Homo sapiens: one gene and its partners. The protein of the gene in region 4 interacts with the protein of the main gene of each other region in a pairwise test. Each region holds a gene or a part of one and is shown on either strand. Other genes may lie near its edges.

What was found.
Region 1: the proteins of MX1 (region 4) and HMGXB4 interact in a two-hybrid assay, tested with the Homo sapiens proteins (one study listed by BioGRID).
Region 2: the proteins of MX1 (region 4) and PSD3 interact in a two-hybrid assay, tested with the Homo sapiens proteins (one study listed by BioGRID).
Region 3: the proteins of MX1 (region 4) and GMEB1 interact in a two-hybrid assay, tested with the Homo sapiens proteins (one study listed by BioGRID).

What each region holds. Positions count from the first base shown.
Region 1 is NC_000022.11:35,260,467-35,267,493, forward strand, and holds part of HMGXB4 (HMG domain-containing protein 4), read left to right. Parts: exon of another isoform or gene 1-1,059; intron 1,060-1,856; 5' UTR 1,857-1,924; coding exon 1,925-1,955; intron 1,956-2,611; coding exon 2,612-2,760; intron 2,761-3,329; coding exon 3,330-3,408; intron 3,409-3,515; exon of another isoform or gene 3,516-3,630; intron 3,631-4,181; coding exon 4,182-5,137; intron 5,138-7,027. UniProt on the Homo sapiens protein: Negatively regulates Wnt/beta-catenin signaling during development.
Region 2 is NC_000008.11:19,003,694-19,010,720, forward strand, and holds part of PSD3 (PH and SEC7 domain-containing protein 3), read right to left. Parts: intron 3,181-7,027; exon of another isoform or gene 1-3,180. UniProt on the Homo sapiens protein: Guanine nucleotide exchange factor for ARF6.
Region 3 is NC_000001.11:28,699,783-28,706,809, reverse strand, and holds part of GMEB1 (glucocorticoid modulatory element-binding protein 1), read right to left. Parts: intron 4,373-7,027; coding exon 4,241-4,372; intron 2,619-4,240; coding exon 2,481-2,618; intron 1-2,480. UniProt on the Homo sapiens protein: Trans-acting factor that binds to glucocorticoid modulatory elements (GME) present in the TAT (tyrosine aminotransferase) promoter and increases sensitivity to low concentrations of glucocorticoids. Also binds to the transferrin receptor promoter.
Region 4 is NC_000021.9:41,450,224-41,457,250, reverse strand, and holds part of MX1 (interferon-induced GTP-binding protein Mx1), read right to left. Parts: intron 6,085-7,027; coding exon 6,008-6,084; intron 4,631-6,007; coding exon 4,382-4,630; intron 1-4,381.

The DNA of each region.
Region 1 (7,027 bases), on a different chromosome or scaffold from region 4:
CAGTAGTTTCCGCTGAGAAAGTGTCATCCTTAAATGCTGGAACATGGAAAACTGGCTACATTATGTATCTTGCCTCCTCACATTTTTATCTGAGGCCTGACCTTATGTCCCCTTCGTTTCCTATGAAAAGGCCCTTCGAACAGGCAGTTCTCCAATTGAACTTTAAAACAATCCAGTTAATATAGTTTCATTACTCTAGCTTCTCTTACTTTGACCAAATCCATTCTTTATTTCACTTCTCAGAGAAGTGAAGAAATGCTTTTTTATGTTTCTTTTCTTAATCTAATAAATCATTCTTGGTAATGCTTCATTTTCCCATTTAGGCCTACCTGTATGTACATTGTATTTTATCTGATTGTGCAAATAAGTCTTTTTAATGTAACTCTTATGAAAGTCTCCCTTGTTAATCAAATTCATCTTTTCTTTCACAAAAGTTCCATGCTTCAGTATTGTCCACAGCTACCTGAAGGAATTAGTAATGTGTCATTTAAGTGTCCTTCAGTATTTCTAAATACCCTTATAATAATGAAGGTAAAATTAAATTTAAATAAATGATCAATTAGATTAACTTTGTAAGCATCTGACTTAATTGGATGAGAACATTTCCAAAATATTTAATATGTAATTTTAAAATTCCTGAAGGACTTATGAAATTGCTTGTTCTTAAAACATTTAAAGAACTTTACCTTGGCTGGGCGCGGTGGCTCACGCCTGTAATCCCAGCACTTTGGGAGGCCGAGGTGGGTGGATCACGAGGTCAAGAGTTCAAGACCAGCCTGGCCAAGATAGTGAAAACCCATCTCTACTAAAAATACAAAAATTAGCCAGGCTCGGTGGCAGGCGCCTGTAATCTCAGCTACTCGGGAGGCTGAGGCAGGAGAATCGCTTGAACCCGGGAGGCGGAGGTTGCAGTGAACCAATATCGTGCCACTGCACTCCAGCCTGGGCAACAGAGCAAGACTCTATCTCAAAAAAAAAAAAAAAAATCCTTTTACCTTACAGTGCATTTTATAGCATTGTCATCTTCAAAGTCAAAATGGACATATAAACTCAAATGCCAAAAAAGGTTGTAAAAATTCAATAAAAAATACAATATCTAGAACATTTAAATTATAGCAATTCTTATTAGTGAAGGTCTTAATAATCATAAAAGTTTTATGACCAGTGGACAAATGATAAATGTCTCCCTATTTTCACCTAGCCTTTAAGAAAGCCTTGGTGGTGGTGACAGCTGTCATATGGTCAACTGATGTAAGGAGTGTACCTGCTTTTACAGTTACATAAATTTGAACAAATTCATGTCGCCCCCCCCAAAAAATGCAAAAGACATTGTGCTCTAAAGATATTTAACATCCCTATACAGTTAATCATTTCTGTTTAAATTACAATGCAATAGATTTTACCGCTTCACCAATCCAGTTGGTAGGATTTTGTGGTCTTCAAATGTTTGATGTGATCTGTCTTCTCTGCATCTTGCTTTACTTGTGTATGTTGTAACCATGATTGAACCTATCCCTCTAACTTAATGTTGGTTTCTACCCTGTCTCAGTGTTGTCAGTCCTGTTGGCATTTTAGAAATTCTCATTAATTTTGAAAATATTTTTTGTATTGGAGGTATTTTATATACTTCCCCAAATGACAACTTTAATTCATGACTGAAATCTAATTAAGCCTAGTATACTTCCTGCAGTATCAACCCCACTGTATTTACAAAGAGAATGAGGAGGTGACAAGACACTTTTTATTTCTTGCTGCCCTTCCAGTCAGCCCTTGGATCACTGCGCATTTCCATCTGGAAGGTTGCTTCTCCTCAGTGATTTCGCATTACAGGAGGGTTTTCCTTCTTTGTTTCTCAGACCTGGTCCTGTAGACGGGAAGGAGCCTGGACACAGTGACACATTCTCAAAGGCCCTGCAGGACCACCATGGCTTATGATGACTCCGTGAAGAAAGAAGGTATGACCCCATAATCTGAGAAGCATTCCAAAGGGGGTATCCTCTTCAATCCTTGCAGCCCATGGATATAGAGACCAGGACTGGGCACCACAGCCTGGACTCCCAAGTGATGGTCCAGAGCACTGTTATGACACTCAGCCTCCACGCCATCCCCAGACTGGGCCCATGGAAACGAAAACCAGGACAGGGGTTCCAACACGAGAGTCTGAAATATGAGTCTCTTAGTTTATTGGGGTGATCCCCTGCAGCACTCTTGGTCCTTGCCAGCTCCAGTGTGCAGGAGTCTGGGGATAGGAATCACATCCTGGACTCCCACAGAGAGCAGCACAGCACATGAATCCTTATTCTTTTCAGCCTTTCGTCTGCAAGTCTGTGTCCTCCTACCAAATCACAACTCAGAAACCATATCTGAGGTTGCACATGGGGCCTTTGCATAGCATGGAAACATTGTTTCTTCAGGTTTGATTCTTGTATTTGCAGCTAGGTCATCAAGAAATATTCTGTTCCCCTGGGTCTAGCCCTGTATTTCAGTGGACTTGATTGAAACATTGTTTTAATTTGGAAATAGAGGAACTGTTGCATTACCTGCATGACGATTTGGTCATTACTTACTTGACTTTCTCATTTCCTTTCCCAAATAAACCTGTGCTTCTCAGATTGTTTTGATGGTGATCATACCTTTGAGGACATAGGACTTGCAGCTGGCCGAAGCCAACGAGAGAAAAAACGTTCTTACAAAGATTTTTTAAGGGAAGAGGAAGAAATTGCTGCTCAGGTCAGGAATTCTTCCAAGAAGAAGTTGAAGGTAAGTCCTGAAAATTTAAATTAGGAAAGTCTTAAACTACTCATTTTTTTTTGGTGATGCAGAGTTTTTTTTTGTTTTTTTTTTTTTTCTCTCATGGCCCAGGCTTGAATGCAATGGCACAATCTCTGCTCACTGCAACCTTCGACTCCCAGGTTCAAGCGTTTCTCTTGCCTCAGCCTCCCGAGTAGCTGGAATTACAGGCGCGGGCCACCACGCCTGGCCAATTTTTGTATTTTATCAGAGACAGGGTTTCACCATGTTGGCCAGGCAGGTCTCAAACTCCTGACCTCAAATGATTCACCTGCCTCCGCCTCCCAAAGTGCTGGGATTACAGGCCTGGGCCACTGCGCCAGGAAAGTCTTAAACTACTTCTTACCATATTTCCTAATATTTGAAGAAGGAAGTATTTTTTAATAACTTGAGAAAAGAAAAATAAAACGTTATGCACATCTATTTTTATTATTTCTTGTGCTTTGTTTCCCAAAATCAAAAATCATCAAAGACAAGAGTGGTTACAAACTGCATTTGCCTCATCATCTTATTATTGGTCAATTCTTCTTTAATTATAGGATAGTGAACTTTACTTCTTGGGGACGGACACACACAAGAAGAAGAGGAAGCACTCCTCTGATGATTACTACTATGGAGGTGAGGATGGGAATGGGCAACAGGTGGGATAAACACATCGCTGGTTCTTGGAGTCGGGGTAGGGGAAAGGGATCCAGATGTTGCTGACTCAGTGGCCTATTTAACAGGACAGTGGTTCTTGTTCTGAGTGCCGATAAACCAGTGTGAAGGAGGAGAGAGGTGGAGGGCTGGTATTTTGGAGGATTCAGCATAGAAGAACAGTCTGCATTTGTGATACACCAGGTACCAGGTTCCTTCTCCCCCCAATCATCCACTTATCTTGTGCCCATTGTTATCTAGCATCCCTTTTGCCATACGTAGTCCTCTGGCCTGCACCTGTGGGTCACTTCTCAACCAGTATATATCCACTCACAGAACCAGTTTTCTTAGCTATGTTATGCACATAGCTGATGAGACTCAACTTTCACCAGAATGGGTTTGTCCTGAACACAGAAACAAATGATACTCTGTCTGCAATCTGAATTGTTAACTTCCCATAATCCCACAGCTATAGTCAGTTCTTCTGGGTATGTGCTCTTTGGTTGCTTCTGAAGACTCAATGAAGAGAAACAACTTTAGTGGCAAGAACTGTGTCCAGGGTCAGAGGCAGACTCTACCAAGCCAAGAAGCACAAGGGCATCATTTCTCAATGTTAGGAATCAGTTAAAGGGTCTCCCTTCAAATCATTCCTGTTAGCCTCTTTCTCATGTTAGCTAGGTGCTTTTGATGAGAGAGGAAACTTGTTAGAAGTTGCTTCCCATCATATTGACAGTACTTCTCTTGATTATTTCTAGATATTTCGTCTTTGGAATCGTCACAGAAGAAAAAGAAAAAGTCCAGCCCACAGTCTACTGATACAGCTATGGACCTGTTGAAAGCTATCACTTCCCCACTGGCAGCAGGCTCCAAGCCCTCCAAAAAGACTGGGGAGAAATCCTCTGGCTCTTCAAGCCATTCGGAGAGTAAAAAGGAGCACCACAGGAAGAAAGTCAGTGGAAGCAGTGGGGAACTACCCCTAGAGGATGGTGGCTCCCACAAATCGAAAAAAATGAAACCTCTCTATGTGAACACAGAGACACTGACCCTTCGGGAGCCTGATGGTTTAAAAATGAAACTTATTCTGTCACCAAAGGAGAAGGGAAGCAGCTCTGTTGATGAGGAGTCTTTTCAATATCCCTCCCAACAAGCGACTGTGAAAAAATCCTCAAAGAAATCAGCTCGGGATGAGCAGGGTGCTTTACTCCTAGGACATGAGTTACAGAGCTTTCTGAAAACAGCCCGGAAAAAGCACAAGTCATCCTCAGACGCACATTCATCTCCTGGCCCTGAAGGCTGTGGGTCTGACGCCTCCCAGTTCGCAGAGTCCCACAGTGCTAACCTTGATCTTTCAGGGCTTGAACCTATTCTGGTAGAATCAGACTCATCCTCTGGTGGGGAACTAGAGGCTGGGGAGTTAGTGATAGATGATTCTTACCGAGAAATCAAGAAGAAAAAGAAGTCAAAGAAGAGCAAAAAGAAGAAAGACAAGGAGAAGCATAAAGAGAAGCGACACTCCAAGTCCAAGAGAAGTTTAGGACTTTCTGCCGTGCCAGTGGGAGAGGTCACAGTGACATCTGGCCCTCCTCCCAGCATCCCATACGCTGGAGCAGCAGCACCTCCCCTGCCACTTCCTGGCCTCCACACAGATGGGCATAGTGAAAAAAAAAAGAAAAAAGAAGAGAAGGACAAAGAGAGAGAGAGAGGAGAAAAGGTAAAGCATCTTTTAAGTGTGGTGGGGGTAAGAGATTAAGCAGGTTCTTCCTGGGTAGTCAGTGGACTTTTAAGTTAAGCAGTTGAGGTAAACCACTGGGAATTAAGCATGTTTGGGGGATATGTTGGAATGATATAAAGTATAAAATATTACCAGTAGCCCAGTCTGTCTGATATAGAAGCAATCTTTTTTTTTTTTTTTGAGATGGAGTCTCGCTCTGTCGCCCAGGCTGGAGTGCAGTGGTGCAGTCTGGGCTCACTGCAACCTCCTCCTCCCAGGTTCAAGCCTCACCCTCCCAAGTAGCTGAAATTACAGGCACCCGCCACCACACCCGACTAATTTTTTTTTTTTTTTTTTGTATTTTTAATAGAGACGAGGTTTCACCATGTTGGCCAGGCTGGTCTCAAACTCCTGACCTCAAGTGATCCACCCACCTCAGCCTCCCAAAGTGCTAGGATTACAGGCATGAGCCACCATGCCCGGCCTAGGGTTTCTTAATAGAGTTATTCTCCCATTGTGCCAGGAATAGGTTTAGTTACACTGTGGCTTTTTCCAGCTAGTTCTTAGAATTCACAGAAGGAGCTAAACCCAATTTCTTTCACTTAGCATCACTGTCTGCTTAGGGCAGTTGGGAGATGTCAAAAGGTGTTCTTTGAGTTCATTTTTAAAAACAGACTATCAAAATTGGTAGAACAATGAGCAGTCAAGTTAACAGAATAGCTAATGACTTTCCACCAGCTGGTGTTGGCTACTTTCTGGTATTCTTTTTAGTGTCGAATATATGTTCTTTTACTGTCTGAGTGCTTGCTGTATGCCAAGCTCAATGCTGTAGATAGTACCAGGAAGTAAAAACACAAGCAGGACATAGTTGTTGACTTTAGGGAGCTCACTGTTGATTAGGGAGATAGGAATGATAAATCAGTCACCTTGGTTTGATTTCTTTCCTCATAACAGTTTCTGGCAGTGAACTTTAGGGTCTCATAACTATGTCATTAAAAGTTTCTTTTTTTATTTATAGTTCTGCAAAATGCAATGTCAGATAAAATCTGGAAGAAAAGCGACTAAGAACGAGAAAATCAAATGTATTAAGAATCTGGGGCTGGGTGTGGTGGCTCATGCCTGTAATCCCAGCACTTTGGGAGGCTGAGGCAGGTGGATCCCTTGAGCCCAAGAGTTCGGGACCGGCCTGGGCAACATAGCGAAACCCAGTCTCTACAAAAAAATACAAAAATTTGCCTGGTGTGGGGGTGCACATCTATAGTCCCAGCTACTCAGGAGATTGAGGTGAGAGGATTGCTTAAGCCCAAGAGGTGGAGGCTACAGTGAGCTATAATCTTGCCACTGCAACTTCAGCCTGGACAGCAGAGTGAGGCTCCCTGTCTCAAAAGAAAAAAGAAAAGAATCTAGGAATGGGAATTTAGTTTGATCTCTGAGGTGGAAGTTATTTCTCCACTATAAAGGGTGCCTTTTAAGAAAGTCTGCTTATATCTATCTGTTTATATCTATCTGTAGATCTATATCTGTTTATCAGTATGTGTGTGTGTATATATAATATATATAAAATAATATATTATATATATATACACACACACATCTGTTTATCTCAAAAAAACCACAAAGCTGTACCTCTGAGCCAGGAATCAGTGTGAACATAAAGACCTGGATATTCCAATACTAAGTCAGGTTTTATTCAGTTGTTTATTTGGAAAATTGCTTTATGAAATAAACACTATGTGTTCTTTATAAGATTCTGTTTATCCTAAGAATTTCCAGTCTAGTGACGTGATAATGCCATGGACTAATCATCCAGTGCTGAATGTCGGAGCACAGGGTCAGGGAAAGCTTGAAGAAGGAGAAGGTTTCAGTGGAAGTGGACGCATGGAGGCAGAG
Region 2 (7,027 bases), on a different chromosome or scaffold from region 4:
GTCTGTGAGCCTGGCTTAAATTTTTATGACACATCTCTACCACACTGGCAGGGGGTGGGGGGTTGGGGACTTGGGTTGTCTTGGATCAAGACCCAGTGCTGAGGTAAGCAATGTAGCCAGACTGGCTTGATCAGCTCCTTGTAATCTCCCTGGCGAGGGATGTTTGTCAACTGGAGACCACACCCACTAAAGAGAACTAATTAGGTTCTAGGGGCAACCACTAAGGTCATCATTATTACCAGGTGAGATCAGTTTCCCAAACATTCCGATCTTAAGACTTGCATGGGGTGATTAGGAAGACTGCTCCTTCAGAACCACTGTACCAGAATCTTCAGGCAGCCCTAGAAATCTGAAACCAGGTAATTCTTGACAGACAAGTTTGGGAAACACTATTTAGATCATGACATTACAGTATCTAAAAAGATCAAGAAGGGTCTTCTAGGTAGGGTGTCCTCCTTTCAAGCAATTCTCTGTCTAATCCAGGAGGAGAAGACTATTTTCTATACATAAAAGTCTCCAGAGAACTGGCTTCCAAAATTTCCTTTCAGTATACATAAGAGTCTCAAGTCTGCAGAGCTTTGTGGTCCCTCTCAAATAGCTCAGGCAAAGGTTAAATCTCCATCCTTCTTCCAACCAGATATTTAAAAAACAATATTTGTTACACAAGTCATCATACTGAAAGTTTTGTTAACTCACTTTGGAAAATACGTGAGGGCCTAGAACTGTGCTAAGCCCTCTGGTGCTCTGTTTAAGATAAAGAACTTCACTTATTTCAAAGGTCAGGAAGAAGAAACAGAAAAGACAACCCACAGAATGAGAGAAGCTATTTGCAAAGCATATATCTGATAGGAGACTTCAACCCAGAATATAAAAACAATGCTTAAAATGTAAGAGTAAATAGACAAATAATATAATTTAAAAACGGTCAAAGGATCTGAATAGACACTTCTCCAAAGAAAATATACAGATGGCCAATGATATGGTTTGGCTTTGTCCCCACCCAAAACTCATCTTGAATCGGAACTCCCACAATTCCCATGTGTCGTGTGAGGAAGCCGGTGGAAGGTAATTGAATTACCGGGGTGAGTCTTTCCAATGCTGTTCTCTTGATTGTAATAAGTCTCAAGAGATCTGATGGCTTTAAAAATGGGAGTTTGCCCACACAAGCTGTCTCTTTGCCTGCTGCCATACATGTAAGACATGACTTGATCCTTCTTGCCTTCCACCATGATTGTGAGGCCTCCCCAGCCATGTGGAACTGTAATTCCATTAAACCTCTTTCTTTTGCAAATTGCCCAGTCTCAGGAACGTCTTTATCAGCAGTGTGAAAATGGACGAATACGAGCCAATAAGCACGTGAAAATATATTCATCATCATTAGTCATTAGAGAAACGAAAAGCAAAACCACAATGAGATACCACCTCACACCCACTAGAATGGCTACAAAACTTGTATGCTTGTGTTCAGAATGGCATTATTCCTAACTGTCAAAAGTGGAAACAACCCATCAACTGATGAACGGATAAATAAAATGTGACCCATCTAGTCAATGGCATACTATTCAGCAATAACAAGGAATGAAGTACTAACACATGCTACTTCATGGATGAGCACTGAAAACATGAGGAAAAAGCCAGCTACAAAAGGCCACATTTTGTATTGTTTCATTTACATGATATGTGCAGAACAGCAAAATCCAGACTCAGAAAATAGATTAGTGGTTGCCTGTGATGAGGGATAGGAGCAATGGGGAGAGGTGGCAACTCATGGGTCTGGAATTTTTGGGGTTTTTTTGTTTTCTTTTGAGACAGGGTCTCATTCTGTCACTCAGACTAGAGCACAGCGATGCAATCACGACACACTGCATGCAGCCTCAACCTCCTGGGCTCAAGCAATCCTCCTGCCTCAGCCTCCTGAGTGGCTGCGATTACAGGCACACATCACCATGCTCAGCTAATTTTTAAATTTTTTTGCTATTAAAGGGGTCTCACTCTATGTTGCCCAGACTGGTCTCAAACTCCTGAGCTCAAGAGATCCTCCTACCTTGGCTTCCCAAAGTGCTGAGATTACAGGTGTGAGCCACTGTGCCTGGCCTGGGCTGTTTTTGAAGTGATGAATATGCTCTAAAATTGACTATGGTGATGGGTGCACAACTCCATGAACATACTAAAAATCAATGAGTGTACACTTTAAATGGGTGAATCGTATAGTATGTGAATATCTCAATAAAGTTGTTTAAAAAAAGGATCCCATTTAATCTCCATGAGCCTCAATTTCACCCTCTGAAAATGGAGACACCACCTACCTTTCAATACTATAAAGGATATATAGGCCAGGTGCGGTGGCTCCCAGCACTCTGGGAGGCCGAGGCAGGCGAATCATGACGTCAAGAGATTCAGATCATCCTGGGCCAAAATGGTGAAACCCGTCTCTATTAAAAATACAAAAATTAGCTGGGTGTGGTGGCACGTGCCTGTAATCTCAGCTACTCGGGAGGTGGAGGGAGGAGAATCACTTGAACCCGGGAGGCGGGGGTTGCAGTGAGCCGAGATCACGCCATTGCACCCCCGGCCTGGGTGACAAGAGCGAAACTCCATCTCAAAAAAAAAAAAAAAAAAAGAATATATAAATACATACAGATGCATGCATGTACACACTCACACATACTATGTTTCACATAGTACCTAGCCCATAATAAATACTAAATAGATGTCATTCTTTCTCCTCTTCCTATCCCCACGCTTTTGTATTGTTATGCCTTGATACTGTGGTTCCACCACAAATTACAAAACTCAAAATTAAAATGTATTTCAACAGAGGTCTAACCATGAGAATTTCACACTGCTATCCTCAAGACTACTCCTACATGGCTAACTCTGAAGAAATCCTGGAGCCTGCGAATGTGACTGTCTACCTTCCAGACTTGTCACTACAGAGTATTTGGGGATAAAGAGTAAGACCTTTTTCCTCTGTTCCACTGCCTTATTAGAATGTTCCTTATTTCTAACCACTGGACACGGGCACCTTCACTTACCTATCTTTAAAACTCAGCACAATCCTTGCCAATACAGATGCTATTCAGACATTTTTCCTGTCAATTTCATCTACAATGAAAATCAACTGGGCCTCCAAGACAGCTCTGCAGGTGTCCCCAAAACACCTTAGCTTTGATATATAGCACTGCCCACCTGATTATTCACTGTGATACTAGGCAGATTCAAAGAGGGCTAGAAATTAGGGAACCACCTACAGCTTGCAACAAAAAGTCAACTGCAGCCAGCTGGGCCCAGTGGCTCACACCTGTAATCCCAGCAATTTGGGAGGCTGAGGGGGACAGATCACCTGAGGTCAGGAGTTTGAGACCAGCCTGGCTAACATGGCGAAACCCCGTATCTACTAAAAATACGAAACAGCCAGGCATGATTGGTGCACACCTGCAGTCCCAGCTCCTCTGGAGGCTGAGGCAGGAGAATCGCTTGAGCCCGAGGCAGAGGTTGCAGTGAGCCGAGATCTTGCCACTGCACTCCAGCCTTGGCGACAGAGTGAGACCCTGTCTCAAAAAAAATAAATAGAGAGAGAGTGAGAAATGACAGCCCAGGACAGATAATGCCATCTATTAAAAAAGCACTTTTGCTGTAAAGTTGCCCTAATATAGTAGTTACTAGCGGCCTGAAGCTATTTAAATTATCGAAATTAAATAAAATTTAAAATTCAGTTCTTAAATCTCACTAGCCACATTTCACATGCTTAGCAGCCACATGTAGCTACTGACTATCTTATTGGACAGGGCAAATATGGGACATTTCCATCATAGTAAAAGCTCTATTGAACAATGCTGATTCAGGCAGTAACTGCATCGATTCTATAAAGTTCACAAGTTCTGAGTTCTTAGGTACTGTAGTTTCAGTATTTGCTGATTGTGAAGTTTGACTCGCACTAGTACGATCCAAGTGAGGTTTGCCTAGGTCAGTGGACAAGGTTTTTTGGAGTGTACACTGAGCTCAGCACGAGGTAAGCACTTAATATTTGCTGAATGCTTAAATCAACAGCATAATAATATCTGTACTTCAGACTCTGCCTTGATACTTTCAGATATTAGCTCATGGAAAGCAATGGTTAATTTTTCTTCAAGGGAGATTTTTTATTTTTATTTTTATTTTTATTTTTGAGAGGGAGTCTCGCTCTGTTGCCTGGCTGGAGTGCAATGGCACAATCTCTGCTCACTGCAACCTCCGCCTCCTGGGTTCAAGTGATTCTCCTGCCTCAGCTTCCCAAGTAGCTGGGATTACAGGCACCTGCCACCATGCCCAGCTAATTTTTGTATTTTTAGTAAAAACAAGGCTTCACCATGACAGCCAGGCTGGTCTCAACTCCGCTGACCTCAGGCGATCCACCCGCCTCGGGCTCCCAAAGTGCTGGGATTACAGGCGTGAGCCATGGCGCCCGGCCAAGGGAGATTTTTATAGGGAGATATAAGCATCAGCGGGTGGGGAAGGTGGCTGACAGACCTTTTGTAGCCACTAGAAATGAATCGGCGAAACATAAAAATCTGCCCAAAAGTAACTTTGCTATTCAAACAAAGTTTCAGATGCAAGAAATATCTTGCCTCTTCAAACACTCACTACTTGCACCTTGTAGGGACATGAAGGCAGAGTCAGAGGAGACACTCTGGAAGATCACAAAGCCTGCTGTCAATTTCCAAGCATTTTTCCAATATAACTTCGCCAGAAAATAACACAGTCACGAAGACAGCAGCCATCTAATGGCATCGTCTGTGCCATCACTCTTATACCTAAATTTCCACTCTCCTAGTGTCCTATGACTCAATCAAAACTGTGCCTATCAAATAACTTCTTGAAAGTACAAGTTTTTGAAAATCTACATTCAAAAAAGCATGTAAGTTTCCATATACAGAGAAAAGCAGTTCCACTGGCCCTTAACCAGTAATCTCCTAGAGGCCAAACAAAAGAAGCTACAGCTGCTTCTATTAAAATTTTCTACTTCTCTTGTCCACAGACCAAACAGGCATAAGAAAACCAAGCTGCTCGATTTCTATAATTCACTTTTTCTTAGCAAAGGTCTGAGAACAGAAGGCCAGGGAAACAGGGAGCAGCTGCCGCCTGGTCTTATGAATGCCCTCGGCTCATTCCCCATCCTCCTCCTCATTGTTTCAAGCTCCTTTTCTTAACAATCTCTAAGCCCCAGCTCATGGGAAGAAATAACAAGGAAAAGCAGCCTTCACTGTGTCAACACCCTCTGTGGTTGAAGCATCTAGATCACTTCTCTGAGGTGATGCAATTAGAAATTAAATTAGAAATTAAAAAGAAATTAAAATACATTCCATTTTAATTTGTTAATCTGCTTTATTGTGAATTCCAATTAATGACACATAACTACGTGGAACTCCTTACATGTGGTCCTACAGAGATCCTTTTAGACACCCCAGGGGTTTTGTTGTTGTTGTTTAATTACACCATTTCTATCTCTTGAGCCAAACAACAAATCTGGTCCCACTATTAAGCCAACAAATGTATAATGGTCGGTGATGAATTAGTCATCCAATATTCAGATTCCAAGACTCGAATAATCTAAATATTAGAGCCAAAGAGCTCAGTTTCTGCAACACGCAATGCTAACTTTGAGACATAAAAACAGAATGGTGGTTAAGAAAATTGGATGACCTGAGTTTAAAGTCTCAGCTCTGCCACTTACTCACTGTGGGATCTTGAGCAGGTTCCTTAACCTCTCCTGACTTCAGAATGGAAATAATGACACTACTGACCTCATGGGTTGTCATGGGGAATAAGGGAGACAACCCAAGTAAGAACTCAATAAACATTAGCTGTGATTGTAAAAACGCCCCATGCCAGGAAAATATCACTCGAAATAAGCGTTTTCCAAAAGTTAGGACTTGGCCGGGCCTGGTGGCTCATGCCTGTAATTCCAGCACTTTGGGAGGCCAAGGAAGGCAGATCACCTGAGCTCAGGAGTTTGAGACCAGCCTGGGCAACACGATGAAACCCCGTCTATACTAAAAATACAAAAATTAAGCTGGGCGCAGTGGCGTGTACCTGTGGTCCCAGCCACTCGGGAGGCTGAGACAGGAGAATTGCTTGAGTCTGAGAGGCAGGGGTTGCAGTGAGCTGAGATCGCACCATTGCACTCCAGCCTGGGTGACAGAGTGAGATCTTGTGTCAACAACAACAACAGAAAAATCAGGACTTAACAAGAAACTTAGAAAATGCTGCTTTCTCAGAAGACCCGTGTGAAAATACCATGTAAGAAAAGAACACCAGCTTAGGTCAAAATGTTAATTTTCCCAGTTATCCTAAATCCCTAACTCCAATAATAATCTTTTAAAAATATCCTTCAACATGTATAAATTATTCTGATTCATCTCACTGATGTACACTCAGAGGAAAGGGAATTTCAAACCAGATGGCTCAGGAGTGAGTGGTCCTCAAGTAAGCCTCAAGGAGTGAGTGGTCTGCCATGGCCGCAGCCTGACATGCAGGAAGGGGAGAAGAGCGGGCGGATCCCTCACACCACCGGTGTCACCAAGAGAGAAAATGCTCTGCCACCTCTGTGCCCTGATGTGTCAACAAAGTCCCTCCCCACTAGGCACCAACTGGGCCCAAGTTTGTTGACCTTCTGGGCGCAGTGAAAAACCTTTCTTTTGGTAGAGCAAACAAGCACTGCAGGGACATGCACTGTTTTTATATAAATAAGATAGCACACGCAAAGATTCATTATTAATGTTGAGTTATGCCTTATTTTCAAATGAGGCATGGACATTTGGTAATTTGGATTTAAGAATAACTTGTTAACTATATGCTGCAAATTATCCTTTTTCTCCATTGTAAATTGCAACAGCCACTACAACACTACTTAATTTGGAGCTTGTGAAAAATGTCCTTGAAAGATGGTCAACGTAACTCAGAAACACTCTTTGAAAAAATAATGCCACCACTTAAATTCTTTCCAGCAAATCCCTGAGTCTGCATACAATATCACAAACAACACAAG
Region 3 (7,027 bases), on a different chromosome or scaffold from region 4:
GCCTGTAATTCCAGCTAGTCAGGAGGCTGAGACAGGAGAATCACTTGAACTTGGGAGGTGGAGGTTGCAGTGAGCCAAGATCACGCCACTGCACTCCAGCCTGGGCAACAGAGTGAGACTCCGTCTCTAAATAAATAAATAAATAAATAAGAATTCACTGAATACACAAGGTCTCATCTCATCATAATCCCATTTTTTTTTTTTTTGAGACGGACTCTCGCTCTGTCACCCAGGCTGGAGCGCAATGGTGTGATCTCCACTCACTGCCACCTCCACCTGCCGGGTTCAAGCGATTCTCCCACCTCAGCCTCCTGAGTAGCTGGGATTACAGGCACCCGCCATCATGCCTCGCGGATTTTTGTATTTTTGTAGAGACAGGGTTTCACCATGCTGGCCAGGCTGGTCTTGACTTCCTGATCTCAGGTGATCCACCTGCCTTAGCCTCCCAAAGTGCTGGGATTACAGGCGTGAGCCACAACGCCTGGCCCATAACCCCATTTCTATTAGATTAGAACGTCATTTTACATTCTGCACAGCAGCACCCTGAAAGTATTCAGAAACAGCTATAAGTGAACACAACAAGTTCAGAAAGCCTTAAATTAATAGGATATGAGAATAATCTTTATTTATTTATTTATTTATTTATTTATTTTTGAGATGGAGTCTCTCGCTCTTCCGCTTGGGCCAGACTGCAGTGGCGCTATCTCGGCTCACTGCATGTTCTGCCTCCCGGGTTCATGCCATTCTCCTGCCTCAGCCTCTCAAGTAGCTGAGACTACAGGCGTCCGCCACCGCGCCCGGCTAATTTTCTGTATTTTTAGTAGAGACGGGGTTTCACCGTGTTAACCAGGATGGTCTCGATCTCCTGACCTCGTGATCCGCCTGCCTTGGCCTCCCAAAGTGCTGGGATTACAGGCGTGAGCCACCGCGCCCGGCCGAATATGAGAATAATCTAAAAACAAGTGGATTTCTCCAATTTTCAGACTCTTTCTCTATACATACACATAGTGGACATACCACATAATGAATGTATACAGAGAGTCTGAAAATAGATGTATCGGCTGGGCGCGGTGGCTCATGCCTATAATCCCAGCACTTTGGGAGGCCGAGGCGGGCGGATCACCCAAGGTCAGGAGTTTGAGACCAGCCTGGCCAACATGGTGAAACCTCATCTCTACTAAAAATACAAAAAATTAGCTGGGTGTGGTGGCATGCGCCTGTAATCCCAGCTACTCAGGAGTCTAAGGCAGGAGAATCGCTTGAACTCAGGAGGTGGAGGTTGCAGTTAGCTGAGATCACGCCACTGCACTCCAGCCTGGGTGACTGAGTGAAACTCCGTCTCAGGAAAAAAAAAAAAAAAAAAAGAAAATACATATATCGCGCGAGAGAGGATGCTTTCTGTCAGTTTTTTTTTTAGATGGAGTCTTGTTCTCTATCACCCAGACTGGTGGGCAGTGGCATAACCTTGGCTCACTGCAAACCTCCACCTCTTGGGTTCAGCAATTCTCGTGCCACAACCTCTCAAGTAGCTGGGATTACAGATGTGCACCATACCCAGCTAATTTTTTTTTTTTCATATTTTTAGTGGAGACAGGTTTTCACCATGTTGGCCAGGCTGGTCTCGAACTCCTGACCTCAAGTAATCCGCCGGTCTCGGCCTCCTAATGTACTGGGATTACAGGCGTGAGCTACCGCACCTGGCCTGTGTTTTTTTTTTTTTTTTTTTTGAGACAAGGTCTTGCTCTGTCACCCAGGCTGGAGTAGAGTCCTATGATCATAGCTCACTGCAGCATCAAACTGCTGGGCTCAAGTGATTCTCCTATGCCTCAGCTTCCCAAGTAGCTGGGACTACAGGCACCCACTACCAACCATACCTGACTAATGTTTAGAAAGTTTTTTGTAGGCTGGGAGCGGTGGCTCATGCCTGTAATCCCAGCACTTTGGGAGGCCGAGGCGGGGGGATCACCTGAGGTCAGGAGTTCATGACCAGCCTGGCCAACATGGCAAAACCCTGTCTCTACTAAAAATACAAAAATTAGCCGGATGTGGTGGTGGGCGCCTGTAATCCCAGCTACTCAGGAGGCTGAGGCAGAGAGAATTGCTTAAAACCCAGGAGGCGGAGGTTGCAGTGAGCTGAGATTGCGCTACTACACTCCAGTCTAGGCGATAGAGCGAGACTCCGTCTCAAAAAAAAAAAAAAATTTTTTTTGTGGAGACAAAGCATCTCACTATGTTGCCCAGACTACTGGCACCATTTATAAAGACAAAAATTACCTGTGGAAAAGCATGGCCAGATCTGAGTTCAAAACCTAGTTATGAACCTTAGACAAGTGACTTAACTTATATGAGCCTTAGTTTCCTTATCTGTAAAATTAAGATAATAATACCTATACATCAGGGTTTTTGCAAGGCTTACAGGACCTGCCTACGGAGGTGAGTATTCAATAAATCACTGCTACTGTTAGGATTAGTGCACTTACCTGTGACTTGGAAGGGAGCCTGGATGAGCCGCTGCTGAACTCCCCTGAGTAGCTCCTCTATTTCCTTCTGTATATTGCAGACAACCTCTTCCATCAGCCCTACATCAGCTATTCCTTTCCAGAACATCAAAGTGTCCTCTGGCACAAGAAGGATAAGACAGAGGGTAAAAAAGAGACACTACCTAGATACTTAGGCAAATCTCTACAACGTTAAATTCAAAATTATTTTAACTCAAAATGATTTCTTATTGGGCCATTCCTGAAAAAAGGGAATAAGCTTTGGAATACTAGATGCTTCCCTGAGTGGGCACCCAATTATGTCGCCCCTTCAGCAGCATAGGTGCTTGGGATGATTGCCTCAATTTGTCATTCTCTCAATTTGTCATAGTTCTCACTACAAAGAATAGTCATTTTCCTCCAATAAAAATATTAAACATTAAACATATTTAACATTACATATTATTTAATTTTAATTTAATTTAAAAACGAGATATTTAATATCATAAAAGTTAAATAGTAAAGAAATGAAATATTAATTAAGATATACTCTCTCTAGTCCTATACTTAAGAAAACAAAACAAAACAGTTGGATAGATGGGGCTATAAGCTCTCTGAGGGTGGTGGCTATGTCTTTTCTTTTTTTATTTTTTTATTTTTATTTTTTTTCTGAGAACAGAGTTTCGTTCTTGTTGCCCAGGCTGGAGTGCAATGGCGTGATATCAGCTCACTGCAACCTCCACCTCCCAGGTTCAAGTGCTTCTCCTGTCTCAGCCTCCGAGTAGCTGGGATTACAGGCATGCACTAGCACACCAGGCTAATTTTGTATTTTTAGTAGAGACGGGGTTTCTCCATGTTGGTCAGGCTGGCCTCGAACTCCCGACCTCAGGTGATCCATCCACCTTGGCCTCCCAAAGTGCTAGGATTACAGGCATGAGCCACCGCACCTGGTCTGTCTTTTCATCTACGCACCCAGCATCTAACAACAGTGCCAACTAAAAATAGGCAATAATAAATACCTATTAAATGAATAAATAATTGGAGGGTGATGTGAAGCCTCTCCTGGTCCCCTCTAAGTGAATCATCATTAATCACCATGCTCTACAACACTTGCCACCTATTTTTTCCTTCTAATATCTCAAAACTTAGTCTATCTAAGAAATGTGCCAAAGTTGGAGGCAGTCTGATCAGAAGAAAAGCATAGACTACATAGTCAAACAGCTAAATTCAGCTCTGACACTTGTTTGTGACTGGTCTTAGGCAAGTTGCTGAACCTTTCTAAATTCTGATTTCTTGTTTTTTGTTTTTTGTTTTTTGAGATGGAGTCTTGCTTAGTCGCCCAGGCTGGAGTGCAGTGGCGCGATCTCGGCTCACTGCAAGCTCCCGAGTAGCTGGGACTACAGGCGCCTGCTACCACGCCCGGCTAATTTTTTTTTTGTATTTTTAGTAGAGACGGGGTTTCACTGTGTTAGCCAGGATGGTCTCGATCTCCTGACCTTGTGATCCACCTGCCTTGGCCTCCCAAAGTGCTGGAATTACAGACGTCAGCCACTGCGCCCGGCCAATTCTGATTTCTTTGTATGTAAAATGTGACTATGCAGGGCTATTGCATGGATTAAAGTAGGATGTTTGTAGCTATAGTTAGTATTTACGTGCATGAGAAAATCCAGCGAAAGTAATTAAGAGGTCTTCCGTGTCCATAATGATAATGGTGATAAGGCTCACAAGACCCTGCAAGACATCTGAGCCCTATAGAAGAATACCTGAAATTTCCTCTGAGTCTTTCTTTACACCCTCCTCCGTGGCCATGGTGACAGCAGCGGTGAGAGCTGAGTTCCATTCCAGCCCTGCCTCTTCCATGCTCTCTTCTGAGATGGCAATCTGCGTGATGCTACCTAAAAACAGTCCAGTAGAGGTGAGAACAGTGAATTTAACGAAAAAGTTATAGCTATCCTATATCTCATACTCAATAGCTACAAAGACCTTGTTATTTTAACATTCTAGCCTCTTGGCTGCAGGTCCCTATTTTAAAAACTAGACTCTTAGGTAAGCTAGGATGAATATTGGATTTTCTAAAGAAAACCTGCCTTGCAAAGGAAAATGCTTTCTTACTTTGAATAGAAAGTGAAAGATAACTTACAAAATCACAAAAGAGCAATGTGTTTCCTAGGTAGGTATGTTTTTGAAAGAGATTGAAGATAGACATTACTACTAGCCTGCCAGCCCCTACTAGCCTGCCAGCCCCAGACTTACTGAGGGTGAAGAAAGCTTGAAATAATTTAAGAGAAAGGTATAGTGCTTTCCCAAGAGCTCTACTACAAGCAAGTCTGATGCTAAGCATCTAACTTATTTATTAGCCTATAAAGAGAAAGTAAAAGAAATGGAGACCATAAAAATCAGATAAGAGATTCATGTATAGCAGATTCACAGAGGGGAAAAATACCCTTTGCTATTACTTGTATAGTAAGATTTTGACTGGGCGTGGTAGCTCATGCCTGTAATCCTAGCACTTTGGGAGGCTAAGGTGGGCAGATTGCTTGAGTCCAGGAGTCTGAGGCCAGCCTGGGCAACATAGCAAAACCCAGTTTCTATAAAAACTAGCTGGGTGTGGTGGTGCACATCTGTAGTTACAGCTACTCAGGAGGCTGAGGTGGGAGAATCACCTGAGCCCAGGGGCTTAAGACTGCAGTAAACCATGGTTGTGCCACTGTACTCCAGCCTGGGTGACAGACTAAGACCCTGTCTCAAAAAACAAGAAAGCTTTTGGCCAGGCGCAGTGGCTCACGCCTGTAATCCCAGCACTTTGGGAGGCCGAGGTGGGCGGATCACGAGATCAGGAGATCGAGACCATCCTGGTTAACACGGTGAAACCCCGTCTCTATAAAAATACAAAAAATTAGCCGGGTGTGCTGGCGGGTGCCTGTAGTCCCAGCTACTCAGGAGGCTGAGGCAGGAGAGTGGCGTGAACCCGGGAGGCGGAGCTTGCAGTGAGCCGAGATCGCGCCACTGGACTCCATCCAGCCTGGGAGACAGAGCGAAATCATCTCAAAAAAAAAAAAAAAAAGACAGCTTTTAAACAAAGAGAATCAAGAAAAACCAAACTGATCCAAACAGCAATATAGGAAAGTACGGACTCTACACACTGGAGGATATCAATCATCGGGCAAAAGATAATCAAGTAAAAGACTTTTAGCCAAATAAAAAGGAAGTACAGTTGTCCCTCAGTATACATGAGGGATTGATTCCTGGACCACCTGCATATATAACCAAATCTGTACATGCTCAAGTCCTAAAGTCAGCCCCGTGGAACCCATATATACAAAAAGTAAAACTCAACACTTCATAGACCCGGGTTTTGCATCCTGCAAATACCATATTTTCCATCCATGTTTGGTTGGGAAAAAAAAAGCTGCATAAAAGTGGACCCCCACCAATCAAACCCATATTGTTCAAGGGCCAACTGTAAATAGCATTTCACAGTATTTTTCACTTTTCAAGTGAAAGAGTCAAGTGTCCAAATATTCAAACCGCCAGATATTTTATACTTTCCTGAAAGGGATTTAGGTTTCAAGGATTCTGGCCTCTATTCACCCACTGGATACACACAGAATATTAGAACTGACCAAAAGATCTTTTTTTTTTTTTTTTGAGACAGAGTCTCACTTTGTTGCCCAGGCTGAAGTACAGTGGCATGATCTCGGCTCACGGCAGTCTCCGCGTCCCAGGTTCAAGCAATTCTCCTGCCTCATCCTTCTGAGTAGCTGGGATTACAGGCATGCACCACCATGCACAGCTAATTTTTTTTTTTTTTTTTTTTTTGAGATGGAGTCTTGCTCTGTCGCCCAGGCTGGAATGCAGTGGCGCGATCTCGGCTAACTGCAAGCTCCACCTCCCGAGTTCACGCCATTCTCCTGCCTCAGCCTCCGGAGTAGCTGGGACTACAGGCGCTCACCACCACGCCCAGCTAATTTTTTTTGTATTTTTAGTAGAGACAGGGTTTCACTATGCTAGCCAGGATGGTCTCCATCTCCTGACCTTGTGATCTGCCAGCCTCGGCCTCCCAAAGTGCTGGGATTACAGGTGTGAGCCACCGCGCCCAGCCATGCCCAGCTAATTTTTATATTTTTAGTAGAGATGGGGTTTCACCACGTTGGTCAGGCTGGTCTCAAACTCCTGACCTCATGATCCGCCTGCCTCAGCCTCCCAAAGTGCTGCGATTATAGGCGTGGGCCGCTGCACCCGGCCAAGATCTTTTTTTTTTTTTTTTTTTTTTTGAGACAGGGTCTCTCGCTCCTGTCACCTAGGTTGGAGTGCAGAGGCACAATCACAGCTCACTGATACGTGATCTTCCCACCTCAGTCTCCTTAGTAGCTGGGACCACAGGCCCACACCGCCATGCTCAGCTAATTTTTTTATTTTTTGTAGAGATGGGTTTTCGACAAGATGCCAAGGCTGGTCTCAAACTCCTGGGCTCAAGAAATCCTCCTGCCTCAGCTTCCCAGAGTGCTGGGATTAGAGGTGTGACCCACCATGCCCAGCCATTAAGAGGT
Region 4 (7,027 bases):
TGCAACAGAAATCGCAGAGGTCTACTATCTCACCAAGAAGCTCTTCCTGGATGAACTGTTTGCTGAGCAAGAAATAGAAATAACCCTCAACACACAAAAAGATGTACCAGCTTGTTGTCATAAGAGAATGCCAATTAAGATTGTAATGAGATGTCATTTTCACCTATTAGGCTGTCAAAAAACCCCAACAAGGCCGGGCGTGGTGGCTCACGCCTGTAAACCCAGCACTTTGGTAGACTGAGGCGGATGGATCACATGGTCAGGCGTTCAAGACCAGCCTGGCCAATATGGTGAAACCCCGTCTCTACTGAAAAAACAAAAATTAGCCGAGTGTGGTGGCACGTGCCTGTAGTCCCAGCTACTCAGGAGGCTGAGGCAGGAGAATCGCTTGATCTCAGGATGCAGAGGTTGCAGTGAGCTGAGACTGCGCCACTGCACTCCAGCCTGGGCGACAGAGTGAGACTCTGTCACCAAAAAAAAACCAAACAAACAAAAAAAACCAACAACTTTAGTGCAGACTAAAGCGGCCAGTGTGGATGGAGCAGGCCTTCTCTGGGTCATCTTTATCAGTCTAAAATAAGCCATCCTTTCCCCAGCTGTGATGGTGTGTTTCATGTGTTAGCTTGGCTAGGCTCGAGTCCCCAGTGATTCCATCAAACACGAATCTAGGTATTGCTGCGGAGGTATTCTGTAGATGTGGGTAACATGTGTAACCCACTGACTTTAAGTGAAGGAGACCATTCTCAATGATGTGGATGGGCCTCATCCAATCAGTTGAGGGTCTTAAGAAGAAAAATGAGGTTTCCCTAAAAAGAAGAAATTCCGCCTGTGGACTCAGCCTTAGCTCCTGCTGCAATTTCTGGCCTGCTCTTCCTGCTGGCCTGCCCTGGGATTTTGGACTTGCCAGCTCCCAAAATGGCAGAAGCCAATTCCTTGAAATATACATATATTTCTTTCTTTCCTTCTGTTTTTTGTTTTGTTTTGTTTTTTGTTTGTTTGTTTGTTTTGAGATGGAGTCTCGCTCTGTCACCCAGGCTGGAGTGCAGTGGTGTGATCTTGGCTCACTGCAACCTCTGCCTCCCAGGTTCGAGCAATTCTCATATCTCAGCTTCCCAAGTAGCTGGGACTATAGGCATGGGCCACCATGCACAGCTAATTTTTTTGTATTTTTAGTAGAGACCGGGTTTCGCCATGTTGGCCAGGCTGGTCTCAAACTCCTGGCCTCAAGAGATCCACCCACCTCAGCCTTCCAGAGTGCCGGGATTACAGGCATGAGCCACCATGCCTGGCTGAAATATACTTCTTTACATACATATATCTGTGGTTCTGTTTCCCTGCACAATCCTAATATACCAGGAATCTCATTTCTAGGAATTGATGCTTCCAGATACATGATATACAAACAAACCTATTCACAGCAACACACCTGCATTAGCAAAAGACTGCAAACAAACTGTTCGCTTAAAGGGAGCTGGCTCAATATACCACATCCATAAAATGGGATACTCAGCAGCCATTGAAAAGAACAAGGCAGCCCCATCAGAACTGAGGCAGAACAATCTCCCAGGTACAGCAAAAGAGGCAGGGTACAGAGCAGCACGTCCACTCCTCTGCTAACCTTTGTGTAAAAACCATTATAAAATGTATATGCATGGGAGCTTTTGAGTGCATGAGTCAGCCTCGGAGGACAGAAATGAACCCGGAGAAGGGCTGCTTCTGTCCAGGGAGCTGCTTGGCTCGGAGACTCCTCTGCCATTGTCACTCATCCTATTGTTTGGATTCTGTGCATGTATATGCCTCACCTACTCTCAAGGTAACTGTTCATTCTAGGAGGCAGTGGAAGCAGCGGACAGGTGTGAGCTTGGCTGCAGGAGAAGCTGATGTGCATGCCTGTCTTCCCCTTAACTGGCTTCACTCACGTGCATGCAGCTCCCAGTGTCTGGAGGAATGGATGTTGACCCTCGGTTTAGAGCCTTGCTCCTCCAAGTGTGGCCTCTATCCAGTAGTATGGTGACCCCTGAGAGCCCGTTAGAAATGCAGAGGCCAGGCATGGTGGCTCACGCCTGTAATCCCAGCACTTTGGGAGGCCGAGGCAGGCAGATCACTTGAGGTCAGGAGTTCAAGACCAGCCTGGCCAACATGGTAAAAGTCCATCTCTACTAAAAATAGAAAAAATAGCTAGGCATGGTGGCAAGGTAAGCCTGTAATCCCAGCTACTTGGGAGGCTGAGGCAGGTGAATTGCTTGAACCCAGGATGTAGAGGTTGCAGTGAGCTGAGATTGTGCCACTGCACTCCAGCCTGGGTAATGGAGTGAGACTCGGTTTCAAAAAAAAAAAAAAAAGAAAGGCAGAATCTCAGCTTCATCCTGACCTGCAATCAGCATCTGCATTTCCACAAGATCCCAGGAGGCCTCTGTGCTGGGTGGAGTTTGAGAGGCCCTGCTTTAAAGCATCCAAATAGTAAGGCAATGGGGACATCTGATAAACCGAGAGATTACAATTTGCTTTACCTCCTCAGGTGTTTACACATCCCAAGGGCTCTACCTGAGTTGTGTCTGTGTTCACTGCCTCCTTCCCTAGGATGAATTAGATTGTACTTCAGGTTAACTGAATCGTGCAGTATCAACCAAAGCATGTGTCTACGCGATAGCTTCCATTTAGTCTGCTACCATTGCATTCCAATGCTGCACTAAGGAAATTGTTGTAAACCAGAAATAAAATCCTATGCCTTCCAGCCAACTCAACAGACCCCCTCTTGGCCAAGTGGACCCCAGAGAAACCTGAAAATCTGAATTCCTGGCCGTAACAGGAAGAGAAGCCAGGCCCTTTTGGAGTTTAGGTTGAAATTGAGATCATAAGGTTGGCCAAAAAGACTCTGGAGTAGTAAGATACCATATTATAAAGTCATGTGAGGCAGGGGTTAAGTCACACACACCCCACAAACCATGAAATCTCCTTGGATGAGTTTCCATGAACTCAGTATAAAATGGCTTACTTTCCAACCCGACTCTGGTATAGCATCACAAGACAGATTGCAGACCCTAAAGGAAATACAAATATTTTACCTAAAAATATATTTTGTGGACATATTTTGAAACGGCTGTAACAGGACCAACAGATTGAAATGGCCCTGCCATGTTTTGTGGGGGGGGAATTTGCACCTGTAGAGAATCTCCATTAATGCAGTCAGACCTCTCCCCTTCTAGGCCTTCCCTGAATCTAGGAGAGATTAACTGAGAGCCTGCTGCCTCTAAGGCCTGAAAAGAAACATTTACCATTTATTCTCTCTGAAGGCTGCTACCCAGAGTCTTCATCTACATACCTTTGGCCTCTAACACTGCCTTAACTCAGGCATTTCTTTCTATTGATGTCAAGTTTGTAGACAAAGTTTAACTCTTTCAAGCAATCGTCAACCAGAAAATCTCTGAACCCACCTATGACCGGTAAGCTCCCCCTCCTTCAAGGTGTCCTGCCTCTTTAGGGAGGGCAAGTACACCTCCCATGTATTGATTTATGATTTTACCTACAATTCCTGCCTCTCTGAAATGTATAAAATCAAACTGCATCCTGACAGCCTCAGGCACACTTCCTCAGGACCTCCTGAGACTGTTCCCAGAGCCATGGTCCCTCATATTTGGCTCAGAATAAACCTCTTTCAAATATTTTAACAGAGTTTGGTTTTTCCATTAGCAATCCATTATCATCATCCACACTCGTCTCCTGGAATATGCACTAGAATCTATGAGGAGACACCATTTTACAAAGAAAGCTGAGGCTCAGAGAGGTTAAGTAACTTGGCCAGAGCTAGACAGCCATCAAAACCAGATGTCACTGGCTCTAAGCCACCATCTCTCTGTCTGAGGTTGAGCTGCTTCTACGAAGGCGATATGGTTTGGCTCTGTGTCCCCACCCAAATCTCATCTTGAATTGTACTCCCATAATTCCCACCTGTTGTGGGAGGGACTCAGGGGGAGATAACTGAATCATGGGGGCAGTTTCTCCAATACTGTTCTCATGGTAGTGAGTAACTCTCATGAGATCTGATGGTTTGATAAGGGGAAACCCCTTTCACTTGGCTCTCATTCTCTCTCTTGCCACCGCCGCCAGGTAAGAAGTGCCCATTGCCTTCTGCCGTGATGGTAGAAGGCCTCCCCAGCCATGTGGAACTGTAAGTCCGTTAAACCTCTTTCTTTTGTAAATTGCCCAGTCTCAGGTATGTCTTTATCAGCAGCATGAAAATGGACTAATACAGGAGGCTAACAAGGAGGTAAACGACAGAGCTGACCAACGTCACCTACAGAGAGAGCAAGACTAAAGAGAGAGGCGTTCAGAAGAAAAGGAAAGAATGGAAGCTGGCATCCTGAACCACGCGAAGACGTACCTGGTGATAGGCCATCAGGTGCTGAAAGATCTCCTCCATGGAAGAGTCTGTTGCCGAGCTGGACTGGAAAGCCCCAAAATCCCAGGATTTCTTCTTCTTTTCTTCTTCCAGCTCCTTCTCTCTGACCTTCTGCAATGCACCCCTGTATACCTGGTCCTGGCAGTAGACAATCTGTTCCATCTGGAAGTGGAGGCGGATCAGCTTCTCACCTTCTCTCTCTTGTTCTGCTCTAATGTCTTCAATTTTGGACTACAGTAAAAAATAAATAAATACAGTTTCCCTCAAGACACAAATTCCTGAGTCACAGGAAAGTAGGTAAGAAGTCCGTAAATACCAGGTTACCCAACGTGAGTGAAACAGCACGTTTCCTGGAACAGCCCTCTGGGCCGCGCCCTGGTGTATCTAAGGCAGGTTTCTAGCCCTGGCTGAGGGTCAGAGCTTCCCAGGAGGCTTGAGCCACAGATGGGCCGGACCCCCATCCCGGGGCCTGGGGACCTGCACAGGCTTGCTTTCAGGCCCCGTAACTCAGCTTCTTTCCTTTCTCTTTTAGGGGCTTCTATATCTGATGGCGAGGATTGTCATATCCATCAGATAATCCACAGGGATGAGCAGGAAAGCCATGTTTAAGTCAGAAAATTATGTTTTATGTTCCCGGGGTTTAGAGAAACTGGTTGCCAAAACCTGAGGAGGAGAAACTTCACCCCTGGACCCTCCAGGCCTTGAGGAGAGGCACAGTGCACAGTGGCAGGTGCATCCTAAACATCTTACTCCACGTCCATCTCAACCTTCTGAGGAAGGCCTTATCAGTCTTCTTTTATGAATGAGGAGTCAGGGGCACAGGCTGGAAGTGGCACATCCCAAGGCCTCCAGCTGGTGAATCATGGGGCCAGGCTCCTCATCTGTGCCGGGGACACCTATTTCTAAGAGTGGCTAAGTCTGGTCTCTTGGCCCAGTCTGTCCCCCAGGCTCATTTCCTGTAGGCTCTTTCCTCACTCTGGATGGAAAGTTTTTTTGTTTGTTTTTTTTTTTTTTTTTGAGACGGGGTCTCGCTCCATCGCCTAGGCTAGAGTGCAGTGATGCAATGTTGGCTCACTGCAACTTCCACCTCCTGGGCTCAATCAATTCTAAAGTGTCAGCCTCCCAAGTAGCTGGGATTACAGGCATGCACCACCACGTCCAGCTACTTTTTTGTATTTTTAGTAGAGATGGGGTTTTGCCATGTGGGCCAGGCTGGTCTCAAACTCCTGGCTTTAAGTCATCTACCGGCCTCAGCCTCCCAAAGTGCTGGGATTACAGGCTCATCATGCCCACTCGGGCCAGAAATATTCTATTTTTATATGTAGTTTCCTCAGTGAGTTTCTGGATTTGGAGCCATTGCCCTTAGATGTGATAATCTTCTCCGCTAACTGTGGATCTCTTGTTCTGTGCGTTTAAGCACTCCCTCCTTTATTGCTTTTAACCAGACATCACCGGTAACATCAGAAGAAGCACTAGTGAGTGATGTTATTTGCTGTTCTAAAAGTATACAATAAAGTTGAAATAATCCTCATCCAAGAAATCTATTTTCTAGTGTCAAGCTTAATTTCTTTTCTTTTTTTTTTTTAAACAACACATGGTTGGTTTTACCTTGGCGGTTCTGTGGAGGTTAAAAAACTCTTCAAAATTTTTTATCGAAACATCTGTGAAAGCAAGCCGGACCATATCTAATCAAAGAGAGAAAAATAGTTCAATATTGGTAGGATCATTTGTTCTCTTCTTAAGATGCAAAAAAATATGAGGATCAAATGGTATGAAGTAAAGTTTCCCCTCTCCCCGCTCCCTTCTTCTCTTTACCATGAAAAAGCAAGGCATGCTCTTTTTGCTTAATAATTTGCTGGAAGAATCTTAAAAGCAAATGACCCCTGGCATACATTTATTTGATATTTAAACTTTTTATCCTAAATAGCTGCAAAGAATGTAATTTCTTTTAAATTATAAATATTAATATTTTATAATACAACTCTTAATATAAGTCAAATCACTCTTAAATATATCAATGGAATTTGAGTGTCTACATTATCCATTTGAAAAAAATACAAGAACAAGCTCTTAGATTAAAAAATTTATATTATTTATCTTTTATTTTTGAAACTCATTTCTATTCTACTTCCTCACAGAATTTTATTGTAATACAAGGTATAGTATCTTTATGATTGAAAACCTCTTATTGATCTCCATGTCATACATTTCTGAAAAAGAAATAGGTATATCTATGTTGATTTTTATGACTATAAGGCTCTAAGTATTATAAACTTTCCTCTGGAATGAGTTAAGAGTCTACAATGGACCAAAACAACATGATTGCAGGTTTTGGTATATGATTATCAGGGCTAAAAGGTCAATTTTACTGGAAATACACCTCTGAATGAGCTGTTCTGAGGCTATCTCCAGCTCCTTAGTTCATGGATCCATGAGTGATTATTAATTACTGCTAAGATGAGGCAGCTGAAGTGTGAGTAAGGATACTGTCAGTCAAGGAGAGGATGAAGAATAGAGATTTAATACCTGGAAAACCAAGAAAGCAAAGCATTTCAAGAAGGGAGTGGATCCACAGTAGGATCTAGTTTCCTACCTATCCGTGACACACCTAGATTCCTACAGCACTCC